Linked DNA regions of Homo sapiens. The protein of the gene in region 5 purifies or fractionates together with the protein of the main gene of each other region. This does not show direct contact. Each region holds a gene or a part of one and is shown on either strand. Other genes may lie near its edges.

What was found.
Region 1: the proteins of LARP4B (region 5) and ELAVL2 purify together in Homo sapiens (affinity purification with mass spectrometry; one large-scale study listed by BioGRID and IntAct). This does not show direct contact.
Region 2: the proteins of LARP4B (region 5) and TRO purify together in Homo sapiens (affinity purification with mass spectrometry; one large-scale study listed by BioGRID and IntAct). This does not show direct contact.
Region 3: the proteins of LARP4B (region 5) and YTHDC1 purify together in Homo sapiens (affinity purification with mass spectrometry; one large-scale study listed by BioGRID and IntAct). This does not show direct contact.
Region 4: the proteins of LARP4B (region 5) and GLYR1 purify together in Homo sapiens (affinity purification with mass spectrometry; one large-scale study listed by BioGRID and IntAct). This does not show direct contact.
Region 6: the proteins of LARP4B (region 5) and SCAF1 purify together in Homo sapiens (affinity purification with mass spectrometry; one large-scale study listed by BioGRID and IntAct). This does not show direct contact.
Region 7: the proteins of LARP4B (region 5) and LIN28B purify together in Homo sapiens (co-immunoprecipitation; one large-scale study listed by IntAct). This does not show direct contact.

The regions. Positions count from the first base shown.
Region 1 is NC_000009.12:23,763,517-23,767,833, reverse strand, and holds part of ELAVL2 (ELAV-like protein 2), read left to right. Parts: intron 1-2,734; coding exon of another isoform or gene 2,735-2,825; intron 2,826-4,317.
Region 2 is NC_000023.11:54,927,177-54,931,493, reverse strand, and holds the end of TRO (trophinin), read right to left. Parts: intron 4,190-4,317; exon of another isoform or gene 4,059-4,189; intron 3,828-4,058; coding exon 3,713-3,827; intron 2,892-3,712; coding exon 474-2,891; 3' UTR 463-473; intron 291-462; coding exon of another isoform or gene 156-290; 3' UTR 63-155; downstream 1-62. UniProt on the Homo sapiens protein: Could be involved with bystin and tastin in a cell adhesion molecule complex that mediates an initial attachment of the blastocyst to uterine epithelial cells at the time of the embryo implantation. Directly responsible for homophilic cell adhesion.
Region 3 is NC_000004.12:68,343,163-68,347,479, forward strand, and holds part of YTHDC1 (YTH domain-containing protein 1), read right to left. Parts: intron 1-4,317. UniProt on the Homo sapiens protein: Regulator of alternative splicing that specifically recognizes and binds N6-methyladenosine (m6A)-containing RNAs.
Region 4 is NC_000016.10:4,812,309-4,816,625, forward strand, and holds part of GLYR1 (cytokine-like nuclear factor N-PAC), read right to left. Parts: intron 2,340-4,317; coding exon 2,229-2,339; intron 1,648-2,228; exon of another isoform or gene 1,531-1,647; coding exon 1,429-1,530; intron 1-1,428. UniProt on the Homo sapiens protein: Cytokine-like nuclear factor with chromatin gene reader activity involved in chromatin modification and regulation of gene expression. Acts as a nucleosome-destabilizing factor that is recruited to genes during transcriptional activation.
Region 5 is NC_000010.11:826,711-831,027, forward strand, and holds part of LARP4B (la-related protein 4B), read right to left. Parts: intron 4,268-4,317; coding exon 4,157-4,267; intron 3,025-4,156; coding exon 2,971-3,024; intron 2,885-2,970; coding exon 2,675-2,884; intron 1-2,674. UniProt on the Homo sapiens protein: Stimulates mRNA translation.
Region 6 is NC_000019.10:49,648,373-49,652,689, forward strand, and holds part of SCAF1 (splicing factor, arginine/serine-rich 19), read left to right. Parts: intron 1-2,495; coding exon 2,496-4,317.
Region 7 is NC_000006.12:105,080,896-105,084,075, forward strand, and holds the end of LIN28B (protein lin-28 homolog B), read left to right. Parts: 3' UTR 1-2,437; downstream 2,438-3,180. UniProt on the Homo sapiens protein: Suppressor of microRNA (miRNA) biogenesis, including that of let-7 and possibly of miR107, miR-143 and miR-200c.

The DNA.
Region 1 (4,317 bases), on a different chromosome or scaffold from region 5:
CTGAGTGAACTTAATAACAACTCTCAGAATATAGTTAGGATATATTTATTTACTTATTTTGGAGACAGAGTCTCTCACTGTCACCCAGGATGGAGTGAAGTGGTGTGATCTCTGCTGACTGCAACCTCCCCCTCCTGGGTTCAAGCCATTCTCCTGCCTCAGCGTCCTGAGTAGCTGGGACTACAGACCACGCCCAGCTAATATTTTGTATTTTTAGTAGAGGTGGGGTTTCACCATGTTGCCCAGGCTGGTCTTGAACTTCTGACCTCAAGTGGTCCACCTACCTCAGCCTCCCAAAGTGCTGGGATTACAGACGTGAGCCGCCGAGTCTGGCCTATTTAAGATGCTTTTGATTAACTACCTGGTTTAGTGGCTGTCTGCAAGAGGTTTGAAAATAGTGAAGAAGCTGATTACCTTAGTTTGCAGAATTTTTTAATTGTAAGATTAGAAAATATAGACTGCTTTTCTCTCATGTGACCAGGAAACTATTGGATCAGTTTGACTTCTCAAATTCTTAACTCTTCCCAGATATGAGATATAAAGCATTTATTTTCTAAATTCCACTATTGTGAAAACAGTAGATGTTAAAATTCATAAAGGATTATTTAAATAAAAAGTTTAGAAGTCTTTATGGCTTTTTGGAAGTACCTGTGTGTATAAAAGTAGAGACAATCTTCTATTTCCCAATAAAACCTACGCTTTCACCATAGTAACAGCCATTTTACCTTGGAGCCCAGTGAAAGTTTAGAATATTCTAGATTCATCTATGCTAAAGTGCCTTTTCGTAAATTATTACTTGGATAATAACAGGAGGAAAAGCAGTCTGAATTGGCACAAGTGATGTCTAAATTAAGAGGAGAATATATATTGAAACATTATTTTTTTAAGCCTTAAAATTAATGGCTCTGTTTCACTGGAATATGGCCTTTTTTTTCTTTCCGAAGAGTTTCAGAGCCAGTGGAATCTATAAATAGTACACAGCCCAGTTGTCTGTGGTAGATTGAGTAGAGCAGAATTGCCTGTCCTTAAGTGAAGGGGAAGTAGCTTTACATTTTTAGTAACTGAATTGTTGGCCAGCATAAAGGTAAGGGCCATGTGAGCAACTTATTTATAACTTCCCATAAAGGTATGTGTCTGCCTCAAGCGGAGAAGACTGTCTGGGGTGCTTGAAATGTAAAAGTGCAGTAGAATCATTTTCCATACACAGCCTTCCTATCTAGTTGGTGCAATAAAGTGATTGTTCACCTCCCTGGGGCTTTCAGAAAGAGGGGTGTCAATAGATTAGCTCATTAGTGTCCACCTCCTATGAAATAGAAGGGACTGAGGCAGTTAAATTAAAATCTGTTTTATGTAGTGAGCAATGTTTAGATTGAACTCCTGAAGGTATTCAGGACATACATTTATGCCTGCTTTACCCTGCTGGGTGTGGTCCTGCTCATGTAGTCTTAACTACAGTTGGGTTCTTATGAAAAATCTTTCATGGGTGTAAAGCACTTTTTCACAGGTTCAGTTAAACTATAAGTAGTTTTTTGAAAAATAACATAGGGTCAGACCAAAATCTCTTGTTACAGTGGGAGAACGGAAGAAGAGTAAAATATTTTCATGGCTTCCTGTAAAAAAGTATGTTAATCCTTTTTGATAGATGCCAGAAAGTGGAATCCATCGTTACTGGCGGCATTGCTAATATCAAGAGTAAATCACAGCCAGGATTGCCTCTCAGGATAAAATTTTTATAATTATCAATAAGTAAAAGACATTTTTGGACCTCTTCTGTTATTCACTGTCTATTTTTAGAAACTAAGTTTTCTGATTATATTGACCATTTGAAGCATCTGCATATATGGCAAAAAAAGTAAACTTTGGCTTTTGTGCCAATATCATGGCTCTGTTTGGTATTTGGGCAAGTTTCAATAAGTGGTAAATGGCCCATTAACTATATTGGAGGCCTCATAGCAGCACTAATTTCAAATCGTGCTGGGTTTACAATTTACATATTAAAAAATGTTCACTTGATTTCGTTCAGGGACAAAGCTGACATCCTATGCGAGCATTACTCCAAACAATCCTATTTATCGGTCCAATTATTTCAATTGAAAGATGCTGGTTTACTGCCTCTTAGTATATGTGAGCAATTCTCATTGAAACTGTTAGAAACCGTTTGACTGTAGTGGCAAAATAACCTCACAGGGTTTCGATTCACTTTTAATTTTAAGTCCCAGGATTAAGGATCATTTATAGTATAATGTAACAGTGTGGGCAAATATAGCTTCTCTTAATGTCTTTCTGATATTTTGGGGAAAGAGTGCTTTTATGCAAACCAATCACTTAGGAATTGCATGATGACTTTTTCCCACTATAAAATTTCATTCACATTTCCTCCCTTCTCCCACATCCTTAAGAGATAAGACAGCCTGCAGTATTTTGCTTTATTTTACTTTATTTTTTAAATTTTTGAGGTGTGGTTTACATTAGTTCTTCAGAATAGATGCCAAGATAACTAGTTAATACTGTTTTAAAATCAGGCTCTTAATTAAAAATGCTTATATTTGTGCAAGAAAACTACATGTTGAAATGAATTTGGAAAGATTAGATTGGAATTGCCTCAATTTCAATTAAGCCACACTGCATGGACGTGCTGGGAATATCAATACAATCACTGTAAATTTTGTACAAACTGATTTGTTGCATTATCTTGCTCATCTAACATACGGTACTTTTTGTGTCCATATTGCAGACGGCAACTCCAAACTAACATGGCAGTCAGACTGTGTGATGTGGCTTCTCTGCTTAGAAGTGGTTCGTGGGCAGCAGAGCCTTGGACCGGGGTCTGTGGGATTTTTCTTAAATTCTGTAGGCTACTTTTTTTTAGCATGTTGGAGGAGTGCTGAGGCCATACCAAACACTTGAATCTTTCATTTGGCATACTAATTATTCTTACATTTAACCTATTGTGGTATGGCCATCATTAGGACTTAAAGCACATTGCAATTTTAACTGTAGTGGTGTATGTAGCATCAGAACCATGCTCTCGTATGTAATTTTTTTACAATCTAAATTAGGATTTAGCGCAGACTCAAAAGAGTGACAAGCTTTTTTAAAAAAACAAAAAAAGTTTTGGTATGGTCTGAATACTAAGTTACCGTAATTCTATACATTCTGTTTACTATGTATTTTTTTGGTTACTAAATTTTGAAGTTATTTACAATTCTTTATGCTCCAAAAAAAAAGTTGAAATTGTAAATCTGGCTGAAAATTATTTGCCCAGTAACTGTTGAAAGAGTTTGCATTCTGTGAACAGTTGTGTTGAGCCTATCAATGGAATATGCATTATTTGTAAAATATAGCACATTAGTATCATTTTATTCTGAGCAGATGGTCCTATAGCAGAGAGATGCTGTAATTTTCAGCGCACACAGCCTACTGCAGCTGTTCACTTGAATGTTGGCTTAGGAGCTCATTCTTGCCACCTGAACATGGAAATAAATGTGCAATTAAGTGAGGAGTGTTTGTTGTCCTTTCTAAATCTTGCTGATTTCAGTCAATGAACACTTTGTATTTCAAATGCTATCCCAATGAGCTTTAGTCCGAATCTCCCATTCGGGTCTCTTGTAGTTTCTACACCCATCCAAACTTTTCAGTAGTGATTTAAGTGTCTTTGGCCACTTTAATCTTGTAGCTCATTGTTTCCATAACTGCTGGGCAAGGGTTAACCCCAGAAGAATTTTTGCTGTGAAAAGAGTGACCCACAGCTAATATTCTACAAACCAGAACAGTTATGTTTAATTAGGAAATCTGAAACTTCCCTTTTCAAATTCAAATAGATTTGCTAATTATAATAAAACCCATATCTTGAATTATTTAAGATTTTTAAATACAGATTTCCAAAGGTTTATTTTCCTTCATCCCTTTAAGTATTCCCTGAGAAAACTTAGCTTACGTAGAGAAACAGCTTGCAGCTTGTAGAATAAATTCCCACTTCTTTGACAAGGAAATGAAGTCACAGAGGGGTTACAGGTTGTTGGATATTTCAAAAGCTATTCTGGATTTTGCCTCATGTTTTTTTATCATGACAGCACTGATTCTTGTTCAGTCTGACCAGTCTCAATATGTCCAACACTGCCTTCTTTTGTAAACATCTCCTGGCAGTAGAGATTTCTTCCTATATGTTTATCTGCTAATGTGCCCTTTTATTTTTCTTAGGCAATATGTGTTTTAAAAGACAGTTTTTTCTCTTTCCTTGTAACCCTCTTTCCCTTTACTTTGCTTTTTTTCTTTGCCTCAAGTTCTTTGCCTTTTCTATGTTAAAGCTTCCCTAAA
Region 2 (4,317 bases), on a different chromosome or scaffold from region 5:
TACGAACCCAAGATGCCACTCCACAACTACCTAAGCACATTAAAAGACAGAAAAAACTCCAATTCATTTTGCAAATTTAATGTAACTCTGATACCAAAATATGACAGCACACAGAAAGCAAACAATAAAGCAGGAACAGCAAACAGATTTTTCCATCACATGACACCCTCAGCTGATTGGCCATAACTGCCTTGACTGCTGTGTGGACAAAGATTCCAAGGATGTACTTTGGCTCCATGGGAAGGACTACTGCAATTTATTAGCGGTATCTGTAAACATGGGGAATAAATCTGAAAACAAAACAAATAGGAACACATTTTAGCACCAAATACACTGTCTTCTCATAATTCCTTAATTGCCCTCACCTTTCCACCCTGCTGTCCTGCCTTAGTGTTTCTTACAACATCTCCCAGCTCTTGTACCCATCCCTGTGGGTCCTGGCTATGGAAATATTGCAGTTACCTGAAACCTCACTAGCCATACGAGAAGCCACAGGCACCAAGACTGGCGGCTCCACTGCCAAAGCCAGCACTGGTGCTCGGTCCACCACCAAAGCCAGCACCAGTGTTTGGTCCACCGCCGAAGCCAGCTCCTGTGCTCGGTCCACCGCTGAAGCCACTGGTGCTTGGTCCACTGCAGAAGCCAACACCAGTGCTTGGTCCACCGCTGAAGCCAACAATAGAACTGGGTCCACTACTGAAGCCCGTGCTGGTGCTGGGTTCGCCAGTAAAGCCAGTGCTGGTGTTGGAACCACTGCCAAAGCCAATGATGGTACTCAGTCCTCTGTCGAAGCTGGCATTAGGCCTACTGCCAAAGCCATCGCTGGTGCTGAGGCCACCACTAAAGCCAGCACTGGTGCCAAGTGTGCTGCCGAAACTAGCATTGGTGCCCAGTCCACCACCAAAGCCATCACTAGTGACCAGTCCACCACCAAAGCCAGCACTGGTGCCCAGTCCGCCACTGAAGCCAGCACTGGTGCCCAGTCCACCACCAAAACCAGTGCTGGTGCCTGGTCCTCCACCGAAGCCAGCGCTGGTACCTAGCCCACCATCAAAGCCAGAACTTGTGCTTAGGCCACCACTGAAGCCAGCACTGGTGCCTAGGCCACCACCAAAGCCAGCACTGGTGTTCAGTCCACCACCAAATCCAGCATTGGTGCTTAACCCATTGCCAAAGCTGAAACCGGTACTGGTGCTGGGTCCATCACAAAAACTAGGGCTGGTAGCACCACTAAAGCAGGCACTGGTGCTAGGAGGGCCACCAAAGCATAGGTTAGTATTAGATGCACTGCCAAAGCAGAGGCTGGTGCTGGGAGCTCCACCAAAACAGAGGCTGGTGCCATGAGCACCACCAAAGCTGACACTGGTGCTGGGAGCAGCACCAAAGCCAATGCTGTTGCTGGGAGTACCACCGAAGTCAGCAGCGGTACTAAGTGCCCCACCGAAGCCAGCACTGGTGCTAAATGCACCGCCAAAGCCAGGGTTGGTGATTGGTGCACCACTGAAGCAAGCACTGGTGCTGACAGCACCACTGAAGCTGGCACTGGTGCTGACGGCACAGCCAAAGCTGGCATTGGTGTTGAGTGCACCACCAAAGCCAGCACTGGTGCTGGGAGAGCCACCAAAACAGACGCTGGTGCTTAGTGTACCACCAAAGTCAGTGTTGGTGCTGACAGCACCACCATAACCAGCATTGGTGTTGAGTGCACTGCCAAAGCTGACACTGGTGCCAGGAGAGCCACCAAAGCAGACACTGGTGCTTAGTGTACCGCCAAAGTCAGCACTGGTGCTCATAGCACCACCAAAACCAGTACTGGTGTTGAGCACACTGCCAAAGCTGGCACTGGTGTTGAGAGCACCACCAAAGCCAGCACCAGTGCTGGGAGAGCCATCAAAGCAGATGCTGGTACTTAGTGTACCACCAAAATTGGCACTGGTGCTGGAAGAGCCACCAAAGGAGACACTGGTGCTAAGTGTGCCTCCAAAGCCAGTGCTGGTGCAGGGAGAGCCACCGAAGCAGATACTGGTACTGAGTGTACCACCAAAGCTACCACTGGAGCTGGGAGAGCCACCAAAACAGACACTGGTGCTGAGTATGCCTCCAAAGCCAGTGCTGGTGCTAAGCGCACTACTGAAGACTGTGCTCGTTGTGGGTGCACTGCCAAAGCTGGTGCTAGTGCTGAGTACACCACTAAAGCCAGCCGTGGTGCTGAGTGTGCCTCCAAAGCCAGAGCTGGCTCCACCACTGAAAGTGGCACTGGTGCTGAGTGGGCCACTAAAACTAGAGCTGACTCCACCACTAAAGCTGGCACTGGTACAAGGCATGCCACCAAAGCTAATGCTGGCTTCACTGCTGAAACTAGTGCTGGTGCTGTGTGCACAACCAAAGCTAATGCTGGCTGCGCTGCTGAAGCTGGAGCTAGTGCTCAGTGTACCACCAAAGCTAATGCTGGCTGTATTGCTGAAGCTGGCACTGGTGCTGGGTGCAACACCAAAGGTAATGCCAGGTCCACCACTGAAGCCACCACTGGAGCTGGGTGCACCATTGAAGCTAATACTAGCACCATCGCTGAAGCCAGCCCTGGTACTAGCTCCTCTGCTGAAGTTGACGTTGGTGCTGGCATCTGCATTTTCTTGGGCTCTGGCCTCAATTTCAAATGAAAATCTGCTCCAGGCCTGAGCATCATCGCCTAACTCTTCCCTTGTTAGGCAGTCGATATCCATGTCATCCCAATTCCAGGGCCCAGCCACAGCTTCCTCTCCAATCCCCATTTGGGCTCTTGCCTCAGCCCTGGCTTCAGCCTCAGCCACAGCCACAGCTGCAGCTTGGACTTCCATCTCCACTGCCTCGCGGTACTGCACAGCCCAGTCCTTGGGGTCTTTCTTCTGCACCTGAAATGGGGATGATAATCATAATAAGAAAACAACCCTAGTAATCATGTATTAACCTACGGGCTTTGTATTAAACTAGTAGCAATACTTTTTTAAACTTCTCAGTTATTGGGGCTCTATCATGGGTCAGTTCTGAACTCCAGTTTCAGCTCTGCTGACTTACGTGCTATATGACCTTGGACAAGTTACTTAACCTCACTTAGCCTAAGTGTCTTTATAATTACAGGAAATGATAGAGCGTAAATATGTTATGAACTGAAGGGTTGTGCCCGCCCCCAAATTCGTATGTTGAATCCCTAACACCCAGTGTGATTGTACTTGGAGATAGGGCCTTTATGGAGATAATTAAGGTTAAATGAGGCCATAAGGGTGGGGTCCTGATCAACAGGATTAGTGTCCTTATAAGAAGAGACACCAGAAAGCTTGCTCTCTTCTCTCTCACACACAAAGCCATGTGAGGACACAGCAAGAAGGCAGCCATCTGCAAGCCAGGAAGAGAGCCTTCAACAGGAACTGACCCTCGTGGACCCTGACCTAGGATTCTCGCCCTCAAGAACTATGAGAAAATAAATTTGTTTTTTAATCCACCCAGTCTATGGTATTTTGTTATGGCAGCCCATGCTGATTAATACAAAGTATGAAGAATGAATGAGATGATGTAAACTATATATCTAGCAGCACCCTGGGACATAAAGGAGGCTCCACATGTTTATATATGAGCTGCAGGCTGCTCTGTACCTGCCCATCCCTGTGCATTGCCTGCCCCAGCCAAGGGTATCCCATTGCCTTAATATGCCAAGCTCGGGCAGCTCTCCTCTTACCCTGCATGCAAACTTGAGGACTTTCATCTTGCTAGTCTCGTGGTAGGAGCGCAAGCCCCAGAAGAACTCATATTCAGGTGGTCTGCTGTTAGGGACCCTCTTGTACTCCAGGTACCTTGGAAAAAGGAAATGAAACTTGTTTCTAACCAAGCAACCCTGCTGTCTAAGCACTAGACACCAGGTGGCAACCTCCTCCAAACAAATACAAACAGCCCCTGGAGAGGGATTTCTAAGACCCTCCAGCCCCAGACTCACTACCAAACACAGTTTATGGTCTTGGCCTCCAATACTGAGCCATTTCCCACTGGCCCTGTGCAAAGCAGTCCCTTGGGCTTCTCCAGGGGAGACATGTATAGGGCATGATGTCACAGGAAGGCCAAAGTATCATGCCACCTGTGAGGAGTAAGCCCAGATTCCTGTTGGGTGTGTTGTAAACAGAGGAGCCATTCTTAAGGCCCTCTGCTCTGAGCGCACCCCACTGCAAGGGCCTTGTGTTGAGTCTGGCCCAGTCCTGGAAAGGTCTGCCCATGGGAATTTTAGACAGTATCAGTTCTAGGACACAGGATGCCCATCCCTCTAAAGCTAGTATAAGAAAGGCACTGACT
Region 3 (4,317 bases), on a different chromosome or scaffold from region 5:
TATATAGAGAACTATAGACATTAAAAATCACTTTTTTTTTAATTTGTTTTTTTGGAGACAGAGTCTCTCTCTGTCACCCAGGCTGGAGTGCAGTGGCGCAATCTGGGATCACTGCAACCTCCACTTCCCAGGTTCAAGTGATTCTCCTGCCTCAGCCTCCCGAGTAGCTAGGATTACAGAGGCCCGCCACACCATGCCCAGCTAATTTTTGTTATTTTTAGTAGAGACAGGGTTTCACCATGTTGTCCAGGCTGTTCTCGAACTCCTGACCTCAGGTGATCCACCTGCCTTGGCCTCCCAAAGTCTTGGGATTATAGGCATGAGCCACCGTGCCCGGCCTTAAAAAATCACTTAAAATCTTTAAAAAAAAAAAAAAAAAAATTTTTTTTTTTTTTGAGACAGTCTCACTGTTGCCGAGGCTGGAGTGCAGTGACATGATCTCAACTCACTGCAACCTCCGCCTCTGAGGTTCAAGCAATTCTCCCTGCCTCAGCCTCCCAAGTAGCTGGGATTACAGGCACCTGCCACCACGCCGAGCTAAATTTTTATATTTTTAGTAGAGAAGTGGTTTTGCCATGTTGGCCATGCTGGTCTTGAACTCCTGACCTCAGGTTAAAATCTATAAAATTTTGTTCCAAAATTAAGATGTCACAAAAAGATGGATTTTTTTATAATGTGCCAGTTCAAGAAATAAGCTTAATGAAACAATCCTACATTAAACAGTATTTACATTTAGAGCTAAAATTCAAATCTATCTAAAAGTTTTACACTAGCAGTCTAGAGGATAAACTCAGCTCTTGAATGCTGTTTTTAAAAATTCTAAGGATTTAATATGAAAACCCACTTAAAAAAATACTATTTGATTATTAGGGGCCCAGATTCTCACCTGAAAACAACCAGCTGGAAGAGTCTAGTCTTCTGTTAAGACACAGAGAAGGTAACATATGTCAAAGTTTTGCATGAGACAATCTGGGTTTGTATCTGGTGAATGAGTTTGTATCTGGTGAATCAGTATTACTACCTGAACAAAGAGCATGCTGGCTCTTAAAAAAAAAAAAAAACAAACTCATGATACCTAACGTATTAAGCAAGTACTTTATCTTTATCTGCCAGATTCTGGCATGCACACACATCTGCAACCCCTGCATAACACTGATCTTAAACTTGAAAAAACCCAAGGCTCAGTTTAATACACTAAGGCACAGGAACATCAAACTAGTTTTAGTATACCGTATATAATACTTTGGGAAAGAGGAGGAAAGCTAAAGGGGACAATCCTACTCAACTCCAGAAGATTAACTTCCTTGACAGTTGCAAGCACTGTGTTGTCAGATCTTCCACATTTTCAAGAGGACTCTGAAACCCAGATTTTTATTTGGAATTGCATGACTCTTCAGTGCTGCCTCAATTAAAAATGAAACAGCTGGCTGATAGATTCCACAGTTGGCTGCTAGATTCCTCCGTGAAAGTATAATCACGTGTGAATGTTTTGTATTAATATTATACACAAACTAATAGCAAAATGAGTTTTGAGGTAAAGGTACAGATTCCCAGGATACAGGAAGTAAACAAGGATATAAAAAGAGTAACAGGTCGGGCATGGTGGTTCACACTTGTAATCCCAGCATTTTGGGAGGCCAAAGCAGGCATATAGCTTGAGCTCAGGAGCTTGAAATCTGCTTGGGCAACATGATGAAACCCCATCTCTACAAAAAACACAAAAATTAGTGGTGTGCACCGCACCTGTAGTCTCAGCTACTTAGGAAGCTGAAGTGGGAGAATCACCAGAGTCTGGGAGGTCGCGGCTGCAGTGAGCCCTGATCGCACTACTGCACTTCAGCCTGGGCAACAGAGTAAGACCCTGTCTCCCCGCCAACAACAAAAAAAATCATTATTTTTAAGGCCTGTTCAAAAACTGACAAGATGTTAGAAATAACAAAGCTAGCTGTTTGTTGCTTGGCTGGGGGATTTTTGTTTTAGGTAAACATGGGAACTTAAAATTTACCATAATCTTTACATTCTTGGCCAGGAAGGTCACAAACTTTAACTCTAGGGATATCAGGGTAGAAAATTAACCTTTATCTGGGACAGTCATTTTTTACTGCAGAAGCTTCTGGGTCAGAAGACAGTGCTATTTATTAACATGTGAGGTTCCAGCATCAGACTAAGATTTAGTATTTAAGGAAAGTTAAATACTAAATATACTACACATTTTGTTTTCTAACACAAGGTACCAAAATAAATTATATTTTAATTCATTTAATATAATTTTAGTGGGACTTGGCAATGGAGCAAGATTACTAGAACCTCCCCCTTCTATTGTCTTGTAATGTACGTTGTACATTTAGACCAGTTTCTCAGTTTTTGTCATTGAAAATCGTCATTCCTCCAAATGAAGTTTAAAAACTTGGATTTCCCATCCAAAACCGCTCTTATAAAAACATACAATTTAAGTGCAAAGATATCATTTTAAATTTTCTACCTTACTTATACTATAGGTAAAATAAATATATTGGAGTATCAATATGTACTCTATGCCTTACAGAGCCCAAACTAAAGTGAACCAAGACAGGCAATTTTATCCTAAGAAATTACTATAGTGAGGGCCATAGTATATACACATAGTATATACAAATGTTGTGGCACAGTCATCATTTTGATGTTCAGATACACAAATATTTCCCATTGTGTTACTACTGCCTACAGTAGCACGCCCAACAGATCTGTTGCCTAGGGACAATAGACTATACCATACAGCCTAGATATGTAGTAGGTTATGCCACCTAAGTTTGTGTAAACACACTATGATAACACAACAAAACCGCCTAACAATGCCCATCTTCATTGTTAAATGACACGACTGTGTTTGTGTGCACGTGACTGTGTGCATGTGTGTGCACATGACTGTGTGTGTACATATATATATATATATATATATACACACACACCTGCATGTAACCGTCTGTATAACGGCTGGGCACGGTGGCTCACACCTGTAATTCCAGCACTTTGGGAGGCTAAGGCAGGCAGACTGCTTAAGCCCGGGAGTTCAAGACAATCCTGGGCAACATAGGAAGACCTCGTCTCTACTAAAAATAAAAAATTAGCTGGGCATGGTGGCACACACCTGTAGTCCCAGCTACTAGGGAGCCCTTGGGAGGTTGGGGATGCAGTGAGCCGTGACTGCTCCACTGCACTCCAGCCTAGGCGACAGAAGCCGTCTGAAAACAACTGTGTGTATATATACAGTAGTCCCTCACTTATCCAAGGTTTTGCTTTTGAGGGTTTGTTACCCCCAGTCAACTGAGTCAATCACTGTCCAAAGATATAAAAATGGAGAATTCCAGAAATAATTCATAAGTTTTAAATTGTGCGCTAAGTAGTGTGATGAAATTACGCACTGTCCCACTCTGTCCTGCCTGGAAAATGAATCATCCCTTTGGTCAACAAATATTTGCATTGCATATGTTACCTGCCATTAGTCATTTAGTAACTGTCTCGGGTAGTAGATCAACTGTCCACATATGGCAGTGTCAGTGTTCAAAGTAACTCTTATTTTACTTAATAATAGCCCCAAAGCACAAGAGTAGTGATGATGGCATACTGTAATGACTGTTCTACTTTATTATTGTTGTGGTTGATCTCTTACAGTCCCTGACTTATAAATTAAACTTCATCATAGGTATATACATATAGAAAAAAACATAGTATAGATAGGATATAGTAATATCCATTGTTTCAGGTATCCACTGTGGATCTTAGAACGTATTTACCAGGAAAATAAGGCTGGTAGAGGTTGGGGGTCAGGGGAGAACTGTTGTATAACTTAAACTGAGAAACTCTTAGCTTTCGTTATCATACTGCACATGTCATTTAACCAGTCAGTCAATGAAGTCCAACCTGGTAAATACTCAAGGTACTGAAACACAATTACTGTATACAAAGAACCCAGTGAACAAGACAGATGTACTCCGGGCACTCAGGGAGCTTCTAGTCTGGTAATCTAGAAAACACGTTATTTTTAACACAGTAACTCATTACACATTACTCATACACATTTTGGATAGATTAAACTTTTGTAACTGTTCTTTGTAGAGAACTTTGTAAAAGATTAATACAATTTATACAAGGTGTTTGCAATAATAGAAAAGATGCATATTTCCTCCTTATATAGAAAAATGGCATTTAATATTAGTTAACACCAACATTGCAACACCTTTCAAATCCAGTTTCTTGGGCAAATTATCACCACAGGAATCACAGGGAGCTAGCAATCTGTCCACTTATATGGGCTGCAGCTTCTAGGTATGAGTATTA
Region 4 (4,317 bases), on a different chromosome or scaffold from region 5:
CTCAAGGAGTGTTGCTGAGTGGCCACGGCTGCTCATCACCTTCCAGAGCTGGAGGGGACGGCCACCCATACCAAGGTCCTTTAGCTGACACCTAAACTCAGGAGCTAACCATGTGCAGGTCACACAGGCCGAATCACAGCAGTGATGAGACGCTGGGGTCTCCACACAGGAACCCAACTGACTTGGAATTTTTTTTTTTTTTTTGAGGTGGAGTCTCGCTGTCGCCCAGGCTGGAGTGCAGTGGAGCGATCTCGGATCACTGCAAGCTCCGCCTCGCGGGTTCATGCCATTCTCCTGCCTCAGCCTCCCGAGTAACTGGGACTACAGGCGTCCACCACCACGCCTGGCTAATTTTTTGTATTTTTAGTAGAGACAGGTTTCACCATATTAGCCAGGATTGTCTTGATCTCCTGACCTTGTGATCCGCCCGCCTCGGCCTCCCAAAGTGCTTGGATTACAGGAGTGAGCCACCACGCCTGGCCGGAATTTTTTTGTTTTGTTTTTTTGAGACAGAGTCTTGCTCTGTTGCCCAGGCTGGAGTGCAGTGGCGCAATCTCAGCTCACTGCAAACTCTGCCTCCCGGGTTCATGCCATTCTCCTGCATCAGCCTCCTCAGTAGCTGGGACTACAGGCAACCGCCACCATGCCTGGCTAATTTTTTTTTTTTTTTTTGAGACGGAGTCTTGCTCTGTTGCCCAGGCTGGAGTGCAGTGGCACGATCACAGCTCACTGCAAGCTCCGCCTCCTGGGTTCATGCCGCTCTCCTGCCTCAGCCTCCCAAGTAGCTGGGACTACAGGTGCCCGCCACCGCGTCCGGCTAATTTTTTTGTATTTTTAGTAGAGATGGGGTTTCACCGTGTTAGCCAGGATGGTCTCGATCTCCTGACCTCGTGATCCGCCCACCTCGGCCTCCCAAAGTGCTGGGATTACAGGCGTGAGCCACCGCGCCCGGACTGGAATTTCTTAGAGACCAACAACTAGAACCAGATGTGACCATGTCAATGGCTCGGCTGAACACACACCTCCCCTGTGGATGCTGCCCTCCCCTCAGAACATATGTGGGTCCCAAAGTCCCCACTCCCTTATTTGGGCCAGATGCTCGGGGAGGAGGGATGCTTTGCCAGTGTCAAATGCAGACAGCTGCTCAAACCCCAATGCCAGGCGGGCGGCCTGGGTTGCTTCTCATCATAAGGCTGGCAGCTCCAGGACTTGATGCCCATCCCAGCCATGCAGCGACTGCCCATGGCTGTTCAGACTAGCTGCGGTTTGAAGGTGGAGCACGGGATAGGCTAGTCCCAAGGCTACTCGCCTCTCCTCTTCCCTCTCTGGCTTTGGCTCTAGAGTAACTTAACTGCCCACTCTTGTAAGCCTGGGTCTTGGGCTCTGATAGAAAAGATGCTGGAGAGCCAGCCCAAGGAAGGCTGCTACCTGGGCCAGCTCAGTGACGGTGTCAGCGTCCACTGTTGACATGTCCACGTAGCACTTCCCAGGGCGGATCCCTTGCAGCACACCACTGGGGCCCAGCACCAGCTGTGGGGACACAAGGGAGAAGCAATAGCCCAGGCTCCCGGGCAGATGCTCAGGAGCCCTACAGACCTCAGATCAGAATCCTGCTGCTGTTTTGGCTCATTTCCTGATTTCTATCAGCTGAAAAGGGAAGAACAATGAAATAAGCAAGGGATAGAAAAGTACTTCCCGCATGCTCCCATTTATCTTTAAAAAGAATCTATGTGAGTGTGTGCATTTCTTTTTATTTAAAAAAAAAAAAAAACAAACCCCATTTAAAAGAATAAACCTCAGCATTTACTTTGGGGACTTCTTTGGATTTACTTGGATTAGGCTAGTCACCAGTTTAATAAGATGACTACCACACTTGAACTTCTAAAATATACAAATACAGTGACAGCTAAACATAGAAGCTTGGCACCTGGACCAAAGGCACATTCAGTTCCAAAGCTTCTAGTTCAACAAGAACACATGAAGCCTGTTCAAGACACATTTCAGCACAGACTTCAAGGGCCCTAGTAGTGTTCATTCTTTGATCTGAATTAAAGGAAGTCTGTATTCAATTAATGCAAACACCCTTCACAATGGGAGATGGCCCCTGATGGGAAATTCAGCCCCCCACATGTGGACACTCACTTGGTGTGCAGGGGAGGAGGGGAAGAGGCCAGCCAGCAATCCTGGCTGTGACCCGGAGTTGCTGAGGGGAGGGAGGGGGTCCTTACGTCCTTGGCCGCCTTGGGATCCGACACGCAGGCGAAAGTGATGTCGCAGGTTGAGACGACTTCAGCGGGGGTTCTTCCCAGACGGGCCCCCTCCTGGATGAACAAATCACACTGCAAAAGTCACAGATCCTAACGTGAGCTGCAGGCAGTGCACAACAAACATGCCAGCCAGGCCAGAGAATTGCTGACCAGGCCTCCTGGCGGCCTACCAAGGCAGGAGGCTGAGGCCGGGAGCCTGGGTCATGGAGATAGGAGCCCAACTTTTGGGGAAGTGCACGGGGCCTTTTACTGGCCATCTTCAGTTTTTGCATGACGAGTGCCTAGGATGATGAACTGCTTCACAAGTGTCTGCTGAAGGTATGCTGTTTCAAGAATGGGGTATGAACAGTAGCACCTCTCCCCAGCCCCCGCTGTGCTGTCCTGGCTGTGGCCCTGAGCTATCAACACTCTGCTGGGAATGTGGGGATGTCGCTGGAAGCCTTCCACCTGGTGGCCATTCGTTTTTGGGTTGTTTCTCAACACTGTTGTCAGGTTAATAAGACTTCTGGAAGTGCCTAAAAACACTACCATTTTGGCTTTTTTTTTTTGAGACAAGGTTTTGCTCTGTCACCCAGGCTGGAGCACAGTGGTGCAATCATGGCTCACTGCAGCCTCAACCTCCTGGACTCAAGTGATCCTCCTGCCTCAGCCTCCTGAATAGCTGGGACTATAGGTGCATGCCCCATGTGTGATTTTTTTTTTTTTCTGTAGAGACAGGGTTTCACCATGTTGCCCAGGCTGGATGGGCCTACTATTTTCTATCAGACTTTTAATGTTGTTTATGATTCACATTTATCTATATTGTTGTCTTTCATAATTCTGGCATAATTATGGTTTATAGTGGTTGACTATGGAAAACTTCACTGAGAGATATACTGTGATTTACCTAATGGCTGACCTGTAGTTTGACACTTAGCCCACTTTCAATTGTAAAATCACATCACCAAACATCTTTACGTACAAAACTTCTCTATGTTTTAAATTCAGGTCTCCACAAATAGAATAAAACAGGTTCTAAAAGTTTTAAGGCTCTCAACAAATGTAGACAGATGACTTCCCAATGAGACTATGTCACTTCATAAAGATCACCAGCAAGCTCTCCTATTATGCCAGTACCAAGTATGTAATTTAAAAACTACAAATAAGTGCCCATAAATACATGTAAAATTCTTCCTACCTGATCATTTAACCAGTCAAAAAAGGCAACTGTTTCATTTTTTTTTTTTGAGACAGAGTCTCGCTGTCGCCCAGGATGGAGTGCAGTGGCACGATCTCAGCTCACTGCAAGCTCTGCCTCCCAGGTTCACGCCATTCTCCTGCCTCAGCCTCCCGAGTAGCTGGGACTACAGGCGCCCGCCACTGTGCCCGGCTAATTTTTCGTATTTTTAGTAGAGACGGGGTTTCACCGAGGTCTCGATCTCCTGACCTCGTTATCCCCCAGTCTCTGCCTTCCAAAGTGCTGGGATTATAGGCATGAGCCACCGCACCCGGCCTTGTTTGATATATTTTAATTACTCCTGATTACCGAATATTTTTTATGCCTTTGTTTCCTCTTTTGTGAGCCATTTTTTTGTCCTTTTTCTTTTCTGAGACAGGGTCTTGCTGCTGCCTAGGTGGGAATGCAGTGGTATGATCACAGCTCACTGCAGCCTCTACCTCCTGGGCCCAAGAGATCTTCTGGCCTCAGCCTCCCAAGTAGCTGGGACTATAGTAGGCAGGTGCCACCTCACTCAGCTAATATTTTATTTTTTGTAGAGATGGAGTCTCATGTTGTCCAGGCTGGTCTCAAATTCCTGGACTCAAGCAATCCTCTTCCCTCAGCCTCCCAAGGTGCTAGGATTATAGGTGTGAGCCTATTCTTAGATCTAAAATTATTAATTAGCACCCTACTAATTTTTTTGTCTTAATTATCAAACTATGTTTAATAAAAGCAACATATTACCCTTCTTACGTATTTGCTACAAGTACTTCTAGTTGGTATTCCTTTGAATTTTATTTTTTTGTTGTTGGGGAGTATTATCAAAAAAAATCAACTGATCTTCTTGTGTGA
Region 5 (4,317 bases):
CAGGGCACTTAGTTCCTGAGGGCCTTCCAGTCCACACCCTCAATGTCACTAAAGTGACAGAGATACGCATAGAGCCCTCCTTGTTTGGAGGAAGAGAGAAAGGAAAGGAAAAAAGCAAGTAATTCTCCTTAATTAGAGCTAACTGGAAGATATAACAGAAAAAGAATATTATAGCTTAGGACTAAAATAAAATCATACAAAAGGGAAGTTAGAATCTTCAATTTGCTACTTGAGAAACTCTTCACTCTGTAAGAATCGGACTTTTTAAAATACATCACACATGGCCGGGCGCAGTGGCTCATGCCTATAACCCCAGCACTTTGGGAGGCCAAGGGGGGGCGGATCAAAAGGTCAGGAGATCAAGACCATCCTGGCTAACATGGTGAAACCCCGTCTCTACTAAAAATACAAAAAAATTATCCGGGCGTAGTGGCGGGCGCCTGTAGTCCCAGCTACTCAAGAGGCTGAGGCAGGAGAATGGCGTGAACCCGGGAGGCGGAGCTTGCAGTGAGCCAAGATCCGGCCACTGCACTCCAGCCTGGGCGACAGAGAGAGACTCTGTCTCAAAGAAAAAGAAAATACATCACACTTGAAGAGCCATGAATGCAGACCTGGATCTGAGGCTGTAAATCATGGGCAGAGCAATGAGGACTAATCATTTCCAGCAAGTCATTTTACAGACAGAGCCCTGATATTCCAGTAATTTTGCTCAAGATAAAAAATAAAATTGGTCATATATAAAAAATAAAGTTGATTATTAATGCGTTCCTATTATTACTTGTTGGGGATTAATAGGCACAATCTCTTCAGCTGCAGAACAAAGGACGCACATGTTTTAGCACAAGTAAAAGGCTGCGATGGAGAGCCCCAGTATCACAGACTCAGAGCAGGACCAGCTGTCTGGCACACACCGCAACCTGAACATACAACATAAGTCAAGGCCATAAGCTGACCCAGAACCCCAAGGATCCCCGAGAGGGTCAACCATGATTAAAGAAACGGAAGAAGCAACTGCTGCAGGAAGAACTGAAAGGACTAGCATGGCAAGCCACGTGCAGCGATGATTCTTCAACACCCAGAGCCTACGGACTCAAGTCTCTCTGAGGTTCTCTCATGATATGCTTTTGGGAAAACGAAGTATTCAGCTATGGGTACACTTTTATAGAATGTGCTACTTCAAAAAGCCAGAAACTTTTCTTACCATCAGGACTTACTCAAAAGAGACAGAAGTAACTTTACCAAAGGTTCTTACACTGCGGTGGTTCCAGACTCAGGGGGAATTGGGGTCCTCTGAAAATCTCTCCCTGTCCCCACCTGCCCTTCACACGGCCTTAGGAGCTATTTTCTAAATGGAGTATGGTTTCATTTCTCCGCTTAGAAACCTCAGACACCTTCCCACAAGCACTAGGCCAAAGCCCACATGCCTCAGGACAGCTAAGCACCTGCGCAGTTAGGCCTGGAAACTGCCAGCTCGTTCCCCAACTCCCTGCCACCCGGTGTACGCTTCAGCTCAGACACCCATGAATCTACGACCATCTTCTGTTCATGAAACTTCTCTTTGATTCCTTCTGAAAAACTCATACTTAACCTGAAAAGCTCAACCTAGATGACAACACAATCCCTGATAAGACCTGTCAGTGTTCTGGCATTCTGTACACGTGTCTCCTTGGCATGTTTGACTTTTCCAGCCTGAGTTGTTTCATGGACCCGTATCTTTACTTTCCGTGTATACAGGCACTTGTTTTCTCAAGTTCTCTCTGCTCTGCACCTACCCTCCTTTTCTGCCTGTCAGCGGTGACATCCCTGCACATCAGGGTGCCTGGCTCCCAGCCATCCGACCCTGAGGACCACTCAGTCTTTCCCTTAGTCCACAGCGAAACCCTGGACATGAACTCTTCTCAAAGTTACTAACTCAATTTCTGCTTTCTGACCATAACCTTCTATGTATGCTACCCTTCAATCTCTCCAATTCCAACTAACCTGCATTGCTACCTCATGCAAACCTCTAGGCCATGAACCCATCTTCACTTCTCAACTAGACTTCAGCTTCAAGGACATGCTCATCCGTGTATTGCTGACTCTCGTGCATCCAATGCCACCAAACTCATGCTAATTCCCACCCAGAATGCACTTGATCTTTCAAGCATCTATAGCAGCACACAAAGAGACAATGTCTAGATCCAGTACAGACTTATGAATTCCAACCATAGGCCTTAACAAAGGCCAAAATCCATAAAAATTAATCCTGTCGACCAACTCTAATGCTGGTGAGAAGTGAGTAAAATAAGGCTGGTAAAACAGCAGGCCTTCTCCTTGGCCTTGCTGTCAGAAGCCTATTAAACACCTCTTCCTCCTCAGTTAATCCCCCTTGCATTGTACTCTGTGTAGGGGACGCCAGGTACACTACAGCACTTATCGCCCTCTGCGTCTTGCTAAGAGCTGCATGACAAGAGGGGAGACGGGCTGTGCAAGGATTGTGCTCACAGCAATCCAAAGTTCTTTATGCATAAGCTCTGTTCTCAGCTACATTTAAAATCCCCCACATAACTTGAAGGTCTGTTTTAGTATGTCAGACTGCACACATATCTGGCTTCCTATTAGATGAGGATTTTAATCCTTCAAATTATCTAGCATAGTGTCTACAACATAAATTCCTAGTAAAGAAATGACGTACCAAGGGTGGGTCAAGATAGCTGTGCGTTGCTGACCACGTCTGGGGAGTGATCAGGCTGTACAGGGGGAACTGCTGCTGGGGGCTGTACATGGGAGGGAAGTAGAACGACGTCGCGTAGCGCTGCTGGGCATACAGGCTCACGTCCAGGGGTCTAAATCCATTCTTTGGCAAAAATGTGTTTATAGCTATTGCCTTTGCTTTTATCCGTGCCTGTTTGAAAATATGTAAGTTTCTATTAGAATACTTAAGAACATCAATTTGCAAATAAACAAAGTATAACCAATGGTCTTGCTTACCTTAATTGGTTTTCCTTGAAAAGTTTTGACTTCTTCTCGAAGGTATTTGTAAGCCTAAGGGCAAAATTAAGTACAAAATTCCATTCGATTAACCTTATGAATAAGAGGCACCAATAGTTCACTCAATAGCTCAAATAGGGAAATATATAATTAAATTATGGTGAACAGAACCTAGAATAATGATTCTTGACACTCCCTGGGTCACAGATCCCTTAAAATAACCTCATAAGAGCTATGGAACGTGTACCCCAAATTCTCACAAACAAGATTTGTACACAATTTTGTAAGTATTAACAGATGCCATAGAAGTCTCCCAAAGACCACTGGCTAAGAACCTTGACCTGGTGGAAAATGATGAATACTGAGTTCCTAGTATTCATCCCAATTTCAGATTAGGAGAATGCAGTTCAGGAAATACCAGACAGGAAGGAAAAGGATTAGGATCATAACATCCAAAAGTCATTCTTGATATATCTCCTTGTTCTTCTCCATGTTAATTCTACATTAAACCCCTATAAAACTGTGAAGGCCCTGCACCTGATTCAATATCATCCGACCACATTCGCCACACGGGCTGGCAGAGCTCACACTCCACTCCACAAAAATGGTTACTCTATCTTCCGTTCCCCTTTTCCCCCTCCATCCAATTAAAACCCATCTTTCAGGTTTCTGTGTTTTCTTTTCTGAACCCCACATACTGTTTATACCATTTAACACTTTATAATATGTGCGTTAGTTTCCTCACAAATAAGATGCTTCCCTTAAAAGCAGGAAAACTACTAACTCCTCACGCCTCCTTACAGAGCTTACTTCTCAATACCATTAAAAGCATCTTCCAAAATACAATGAAGTCTGCTGGGAGATGAAGATTAGGTTCAAATTTCCCCCCAAACACTTTGCAAATAGTAAAACTTCTCTGCCCAGATAGAAGAACAAAACTGATTTTCCTAGGTTGCTTAGCTTGTTGTCCTTAGAAAGTAAAATCACATGCTTTTTATATTGCTATAAAAATTGTCCATACAAATACACTCAAATATTTAAGTTTCTACAACTTGATTTCCTCTGCAGATTATATTCAAACTTACCATCACAAGTAATCTCAATGCCCAAGTTTAGTCCCAACATGCACTAATAGTAAAAACTGGTAAACTATGCAATTCATAGGGTGATGGTGGAAAGAACTTACCTGTTGTGCATCAGCTTCTGTTTCAAATGTAATAAACCAATTATCATTATATGCAAATTCACAGTTTATAAATTTTGGTAAATTATCTCCTTTAAATAGTGCTTCTACTTCCTACAGGAAATAGAGATGTTAGAAATTAATTCTCAACAATGTCAGTTTTT
Region 6 (4,317 bases), on a different chromosome or scaffold from region 5:
AACTGCTGGGATTATGGGCGTGAGCCACCACGCCCAGCCTTTATTTTTTATTTTTTTAAAATTTTTAATAGAGATGAGGTCTTGATATGTTGCGCAGGCTGGTCTTAAACTCCAGAGCTCAAGCAATCCTCCTGCCTTGGCCTCTCAAACTGCTGAGATCACAGGCATGAGCCACCATGCCTGCCACACCCCCCCCCCTTTTTTTTTAACAGCTGGAAATGATTTATCCATTAAGTACAGTGATATGGTGCCTAGGACTTATGACATTCTTAGGGGCCCACAAAAGTGTTTCAATTTCTTTAAAATCAGAAGCTGTAGGGCTGGGCACGGTGGCTCACGCCTGTAATCCCAGCACTTTGGGAGGCCAATGTGAGCGGATCATGAGGTCAAGAGATTGAGACCATCCTGGCCAACATGGTGAAACCCTGTCTCCATTAAAAATACAAAAATTAGCTGGGCATGGTGGCACACGCCTCTAGTCCCAGCTACTCGGGAGGCTGAGGCAGGAGAATTGCTTGAACCAGGAGATGGAGGTTGCAGTGAGCTGAGATCGTGCCACTGCACTCCAGCCTGGGTAACAGAGTGAGACTCCCTCTCAAAAAAAAAAAAAAAAAAAATCAGAAGCTGCAGAGGATAAGTAAACAAATGGGTCAGGCAACGTTCCTCTAAAACTTGATTTAGGAAAACAGGTGGTATGCTGGATTTGACCCCTGGGCCTTAAGAGTGATAAGGGTGTATCCGGAAGCTAATAGTAGTTGTTTTCAGGGGGACTCTGAGGTTATGTTTTCTTTGCTTATTCCAGGTAGCTTTAAAAAGAAAAGAAAGTTCACCCATAATCCTGTCCCATACAGAAATTTATATAAAGCTGTGGATCTCGCGTGTTTGCAGAGCGCTCTAGTCTGTGGAGAGTATTTTGTGCTTAAGGTGCTGGGAATAGCAATGAGGCTAGGAAAAGCTGAGGCTCAGACTGTCCTCACCCAGCAGCAGGTGCAGCCTGGCTCTTTCTGCGCACTCATCTATTCCTCCGCTTATCCTGGGAAGTAAATGCTGTCATCATCACCCCTGTTTCATCTTCCCCTAAGCCCTTGGCAGCTGAGGGACCGTACACTCCACTCATTGATATTTTTTTTGTTTGTTTTTGAGATGAAGTTTTGGTCTTGTTGCCCAGGTTGGAGTGCAGTGGTACGATCTCGGCTCACTGCAACCTCTGCCTCCTGGTTTCGAGTGATTCTTCTGCCTCAGCCTCCCGAGTAGTTGGGATTACAGGCATGTGCCACCACACCCGGCTAATTTGGTATTTTTAGTAGAGATGGGCTTTCTCCATGTTGGTCAGGCTGGTCTCGAACTCCCAACCTCAGGTGATCCATCCACCTCGGCCTCCCAAAGTTCTGGGATTACAGGCATGAGCCACCCCACCCGGCCATAAAGGGTGTTGGATGAATGAACATACCCCCATTTTATAGATGAGGAAACTGAAGTAAGACACATTGATCCACTTGCCTGTGGTCATGTGGCTGGTGAGGGCCAGCCCCTGGATCAAGGGGTGGCTCTGGTGCTGCCCTCTTGACCCCTCTCCTTCCCTGGCACTGTCCTCACACCACTCTGCTGGCATCCTTGCCTGTGGTGTGGCCTCTGTCAGCCATCTCCATCGTGTGACTGTGGCATCATGACTGTAGTACTTAGCACAGTGCAGCGGGCTCTTTGGGGGCGAATGAGGTGACATACGAAGCACCATGCCTGGTTTGGAGGAAGAGGCAAACCTTTGTCATTGCCACTGTCACTGGTCAGTGGTGTCTTTGAGTCCTGAGCAGATGTAATTCCTTGGGTGGGGACTCAGCACAGAGTGAAGAGCTTGGGGTGAAGACCAGCCTTCCTGGGCTCCCCAGCTCTGCCATTTCCTGGCTCTGCACTGGAATCTCACCCTCTACCAAACGGGAGAAACTCCCACGAGAGGCAGCTGGCGCAGCAGGCCAGAGCTTGTTTTTGTCTTGGAGGGGGACTTAGGTTTGAATCCCAGCTCTCCCCCTGCAGCCTGTTTTCCTGTTTCTTCTCCCCCCAGGATGGAGTGTGGTGTTGTGGTCATAGCTCACTGCAGCCTCCACCTCCTCCTGGGATGGGTCGCCGGCACTGGTCAAGATAGTTCCTAGTTTCAAGGCCAGGGTACATTGCCCAGGGTCAGGCCAGTGCTGTCTCAGGATATGGGAGTGCAGGTTCGGGGCCGCACTGACTGAGTTTACACCCTGACTGCTGCCTTCTCTCTGTGTGCCCTTGGGGAGGATACTGCAGCCCTCTGCCTCAGTTTCCTCCTGTGACCTTTGGGTTAAGAACCATGGTGTGCAGTTGTTGGGAGCATCCTACGGCTGGCTCCTGTGAAGCACTTGGGGCTTCCTGGGCAGGACCTGGTGGCCCAGGGAGTGTCCACGGCTGGGCCAGCAAGCAGGCACCAGGAGGGAGGCAAAGGCCCTGACCGCCTCTCTCTCCCTGTTCCTTTGCAGTTTCTCCACAGTCGAACTCCTCTAGGCCCACCTGTGCCCGTCACCTCACCTTGGGCACGGGAGACGGGGGCCCTGCCCCACCCCCTGCCCCCTCCTCTGCATCCTCCTCCCCTTCCCCTTCTCCCTCATCTTCCTCCCCTTCCCCTCCCCCACCCCCACCGCCCCCTGCACCCCCAGCCCCACCTGCCCCCCGATTCGATATCTATGACCCCTTCCACCCCACCGACGAGGCCTACTCTCCACCGCCTGCTCCGGAGCAAAAGTACGACCCTTTTGAGCCCACCGGCTCCAACCCCAGCTCATCAGCGGGGACCCCCTCACCTGAGGAGGAAGAGGAGGAGGAAGAGGAAGAAGAAGAGGAAGAGGAAGACGAGGAGGAGGAGGAAGGCCTGTCCCAGAGCATCAGCCGCATCTCGGAGACCCTGGCGGGCATCTACGATGACAACAGCCTGAGCCAGGACTTCCCAGGTGACGAGAGCCCCCGCCCGGACGCGCAGCCCACACAGCCGACTCCCGCCCCTGGAACGCCGCCCCAGGTGGACTCCACCCGGGCTGATGGAGCCATGCGCCGGCGGGTCTTCGTGGTGGGGACCGAGGCAGAGGCTTGTCGGGAAGGCAAGGTCTCGGTGGAGGTGGTGACCGCTGGTGGAGCCGCCCTCCCGCCGCCCCTGCTGCCGCCCGGCGACTCGGAGATCGAGGAAGGGGAGATCGTCCAGCCGGAGGAGGAGCCCAGGCTGGCGCTGTCCCTCTTCCGCCCCGGCGGCCGGGCCGCCCGGCCTACACCGGCCGCCTCGGCCACCCCCACGGCCCAGCCCCTTCCTCAGCCTCCCGCTCCGCGGGCCCCCGAGGGGGACGACTTCTTGTCCCTGCATGCGGAGTCGGACGGCGAGGGCGCCCTGCAGGTGGACCTAGGGGAGCCGGCTCCCGCGCCGCCCGCCGCCGACTCGCGCTGGGGCGGCCTGGACCTGCGCCGCAAGATCCTGACCCAACGGCGGGAGCGCTACCGCCAGCGCTCGCCCTCCCCGGCGCCCGCGCCCGCCCCGGCCGCCGCTGCTGGTCCGCCCACGCGCAAGAAGTCCAGGCGGGAACGCAAGCGCAGCGGCGAGGCCAAGGAGGCCGCCTCGTCCTCGTCGGGCACCCAGCCAGCGCCGCCCGCCCCGGCCTCGCCCTGGGACTCCAAGAAGCACCGCTCGCGGGACCGCAAGCCCGGCTCCCACGCCTCGTCGTCCGCCCGCCGCCGCTCCCGCTCCCGCTCCCGCTCCCGCTCCACCCGCCGCCGCTCGCGCAGCACCGACCGCCGCCGCGGGGGCAGCCGCAGGTCGCGGTCCCGGGAGAAGCGGCGACGGCGGCGGCGCTCCGCCTCCCCGCCCCCGGCCACTTCCTCATCGTCGTCCTCGAGGCGCGAGCGGCACCGCGGGAAACACCGGGACGGTGGCGGCAGCAAGAAGAAGAAGAAGCGGTCGCGGTCCCGGGGTGAGAAGCGGTCTGGGGATGGCAGCGAGAAGGCCCCGGCGCCCGCCCCGCCGCCCTCTGGCTCCACCTCGTGTGGTGACCGCGACAGCCGCCGCCGGGGGGCCGTGCCACCCTCCATCCAGGACCTCACGGACCACGACCTCTTCGCCATCAAGCGGACCATCACGGTGGGCCGGCTTGACAAGTCCGACCCCCGAGGACCCTCTCCTGCTCCGGCCTCCTCACCTAAGCGGGAGGTCCTGTACGACTCCGAGGGACTGAGCGGCGAGGAGCGGGGCGGCAAGAGCAGCCAGAAGGATCGGCGCCGCTCGGGGGCCGCCTCCTCCTCCTCCTCTTCCCGGGAGAAGGG
Region 7 (3,180 bases), on a different chromosome or scaffold from region 5:
AAATTGGACACTTCCTGTTTACAAAAAGAAATTCAGAGCTAAAATCATGGTAAAAAAAAATAGAAACACTTGAGAACTATGGTCTTTATGGGTGCAATTTGAAATCCTTTTCATCATCTTACCAGACTAAACTAAGAGCACATACCAAACCTATCTTATGGTTGAAAGTTGGGGTTTATTTTTTATATGAGAATATTATCACTATTACATAACATACTCAGGACAAAGAACTTTGCTCAGGGAACATACCATGTAATATTTTTGTTGTTTCTTTACAGACTAGTCTACAGTCCTGCTTACTCAAAACAAACCAAATAACTTATACCTTTATATAAGTATTATGTACTGATGATAGTAACTACCTCTGAGTTTGACACAGATCAAAATTTTTGAATATCAGATATCAGTTATCCTATTTTTATTTCATGTGAAAACTCCTCTAAAGCAGATTCCCTCAACTCTGTGCATATGTGAATATCACTGATGTGAACACATTGTTCATTTACATAGGTAAAATATTACTCTGTTTACAGCAAAAGGCTACCTCATAGTTGATACATAGCACACCTGTATGTATGCTGTTCCAGCCTTACAGGTGGCTGATAATTCTCTGGTACAGAACCTTTTTATCTGTATTATAAATAGCAATTCACAACTGCATGTTTCTGACAAACACTTGTGAATAATGAAGCATCTCGTTTTAGTTAGCAAAGTCTCCAAACATTTCCTTAAAATAATCATGTATTTAGTTTAAAGAATTATGGGCACTGTTCAACTTAAGCAAAACAGAACACGGAAGCAGTCTTAGAAGCACCACTTTGCCCAGAGGTGGAGGTTGGAAGGGGTAGCAGGGAGAGGGGTTGGTGTATGCAGGTATTCATGCTAGGCAAAGAGTTTAAAAGACGCCAATGTCCTTCATTTACTGTCTGTGCTGCCCTGAAGCCAAGCGTATTGCAGCATTATAGCCCCAGGCACATAACTAACTAGCACTGGCTTGCCAAGGAATGAACATGCAATGCCATTACTAGCTATTGAGGGAAAAGGGTCTGTGTGAAGCATCACTTTGCAGGGATTACTAATGGTGGGGCAGCAGGTCTGTGAATTAAGTTATCTCTTGACCTCACCCTCATGTCAACACAAATGTAATTCCTAAACAAGATGCATTGCCAGTCTCTTAGCCCTGTAAGCTGATCTTTTGCTACATGGCAGACTATAATGAAAACATTTTTATACTTGGGTTTCTAGTCTTCACTAGAAGGCCTTGGATGTATTTTTGCAGTTGAAAGATTTAGAAAGATTTTTACCTGCTTATAACTTGGAAGTTTAGAGTGCAATGTAAGAAAAAAGATCAAGAAATGTCATGTTATTAGCATCAGTCCACCTCCAATATTGCCGATACTTTTTTTATTCTGGCTCAGTTTTATTTTGCACCAGTGCGGCCCCAAGTTACTGCTGGTTGTATTTAGTTTGTGAATAGGAGCCCATAAGTGTTAATAGACTTTGTAACATTCACTATAAGATGAATTATACAGGACATGGGAAATCTCATTAAGTCTTAAAGTTAATTTAAATTAATTTATCTGTTTTCTCTAAGAAATGTTTATCATAAAATATATATGTGTATTTCCCCTTTGGTTATAAAATTTGGGAAAGTATGTACAAGTGCAGCTGCACTGACTTTAATTTTCTAGATGTCTTAATGAGATTTATTTGTTTTAGAGAAGAACATCTTGTTAAAAGCATCAAACTCTGTCTTACATAGCTGTCAACAGCCTCTTTAAGATGTGGTGGTTGTATGATCTGTGTCTTAATTGTTCAGTTAGAGTGAGAAGTTGACCTATGATTCATTTTTAAATTTTATATTTGGAACAAAGCTGCAAGTTATGGTAAAGTACTGTACTGTGAGAAGTATTATGATATTTAATGCATCTGTGGCTTAACACTTGTGAGAGTTACCAGCTTGAAAATGATGGTGTTGACTACCTCTTGAATCACATCTATCAACCACTGGCACCTACCACCAAGCTGGCTTCAATTAGTATGTGTTGCTTTTTGGTATTAACAACTAACCGTACTAGAGACCAAAGTGAACCCTGATTTTTATATGTCTTTAATAATGGTGTTTTATCTAGTGTTTTTAAATTATCCTGTGTAGTATTTAGATTACCTCATTGTCCATTTTGACTCATGTTGTTTACAAGTGAAAATAAAAACACTTGAACTGTATGTTTTTAAAAGACAAAAAAGGGGTAGATGTTTGGAATGCGTTTCACTCGCATGCAGTCATCTGGAGGGACTGAAGCACTGTTTGCCTTTCTGTACACTCTGGGTTTTATATTCTCATTTCATGCCTAATGTCTTATTCTGTCAATTATGGATATGTTGAGGTTTAAAAAAATTACTTGATTAAAAATAAAACATATAACGTTGGCATTTATGATGGGTTTTGGAGATTTTTTATGATGTGTGTTCTTACTAAGTTAAGTGAAAGGATAAAAGGCCATTTAGGCAGTGTTTTACATCAGTTGGAGCATAAGTTAAGTGGTATTAACATATCCTCAGTGGTGAGTATTAACATGGAACTTACTCCAACAATACAGATGCTGAATAAATGTAGTCTAAGTGAAGGAAGAAGGAAAGGTGGGAGCTGCCATCACTCAGAATTGTCCAGCAGGGATTGTGCAAGCTTGTGAATAAAGACACATACTTCATGTAGTCAGAAGAGTGGTCTGAAGCAAAATATTCAAAGCCTATTGAAGAAATCATTTTAGAATTTTTCTACAAGTTTTTTCTAATAAAGAATTTGAAAAGGGCAAATTTTATCAGTACCAAATATCTAAAATACGAATGTAGATTTATCAAACCATGAATGCAGTATTGATGTACTGTAACAAACGATTTGGTAAAACTATTGAGTTCTTTAAATTGGCCAGTTCCACAATCAAACTTATTTTCCTCTCTTCACCTGGATGATTTATTTTTTTGATGATCTGTTATGACTTTTATTTTATTTTAAATTCTGGTAAAATCACATAACATAAAATTTACTATCTTAACCATTTTTTTTTAAAGATGAGGTCTCATTCTGTTGCCCAGGCTGGAGTGCAGTGGTGCAATCGTAGCTTACTGTGGGCTCAAATTCCTGGACTTGAGCGATCCTCCCACCTCAGCCACTTGAGT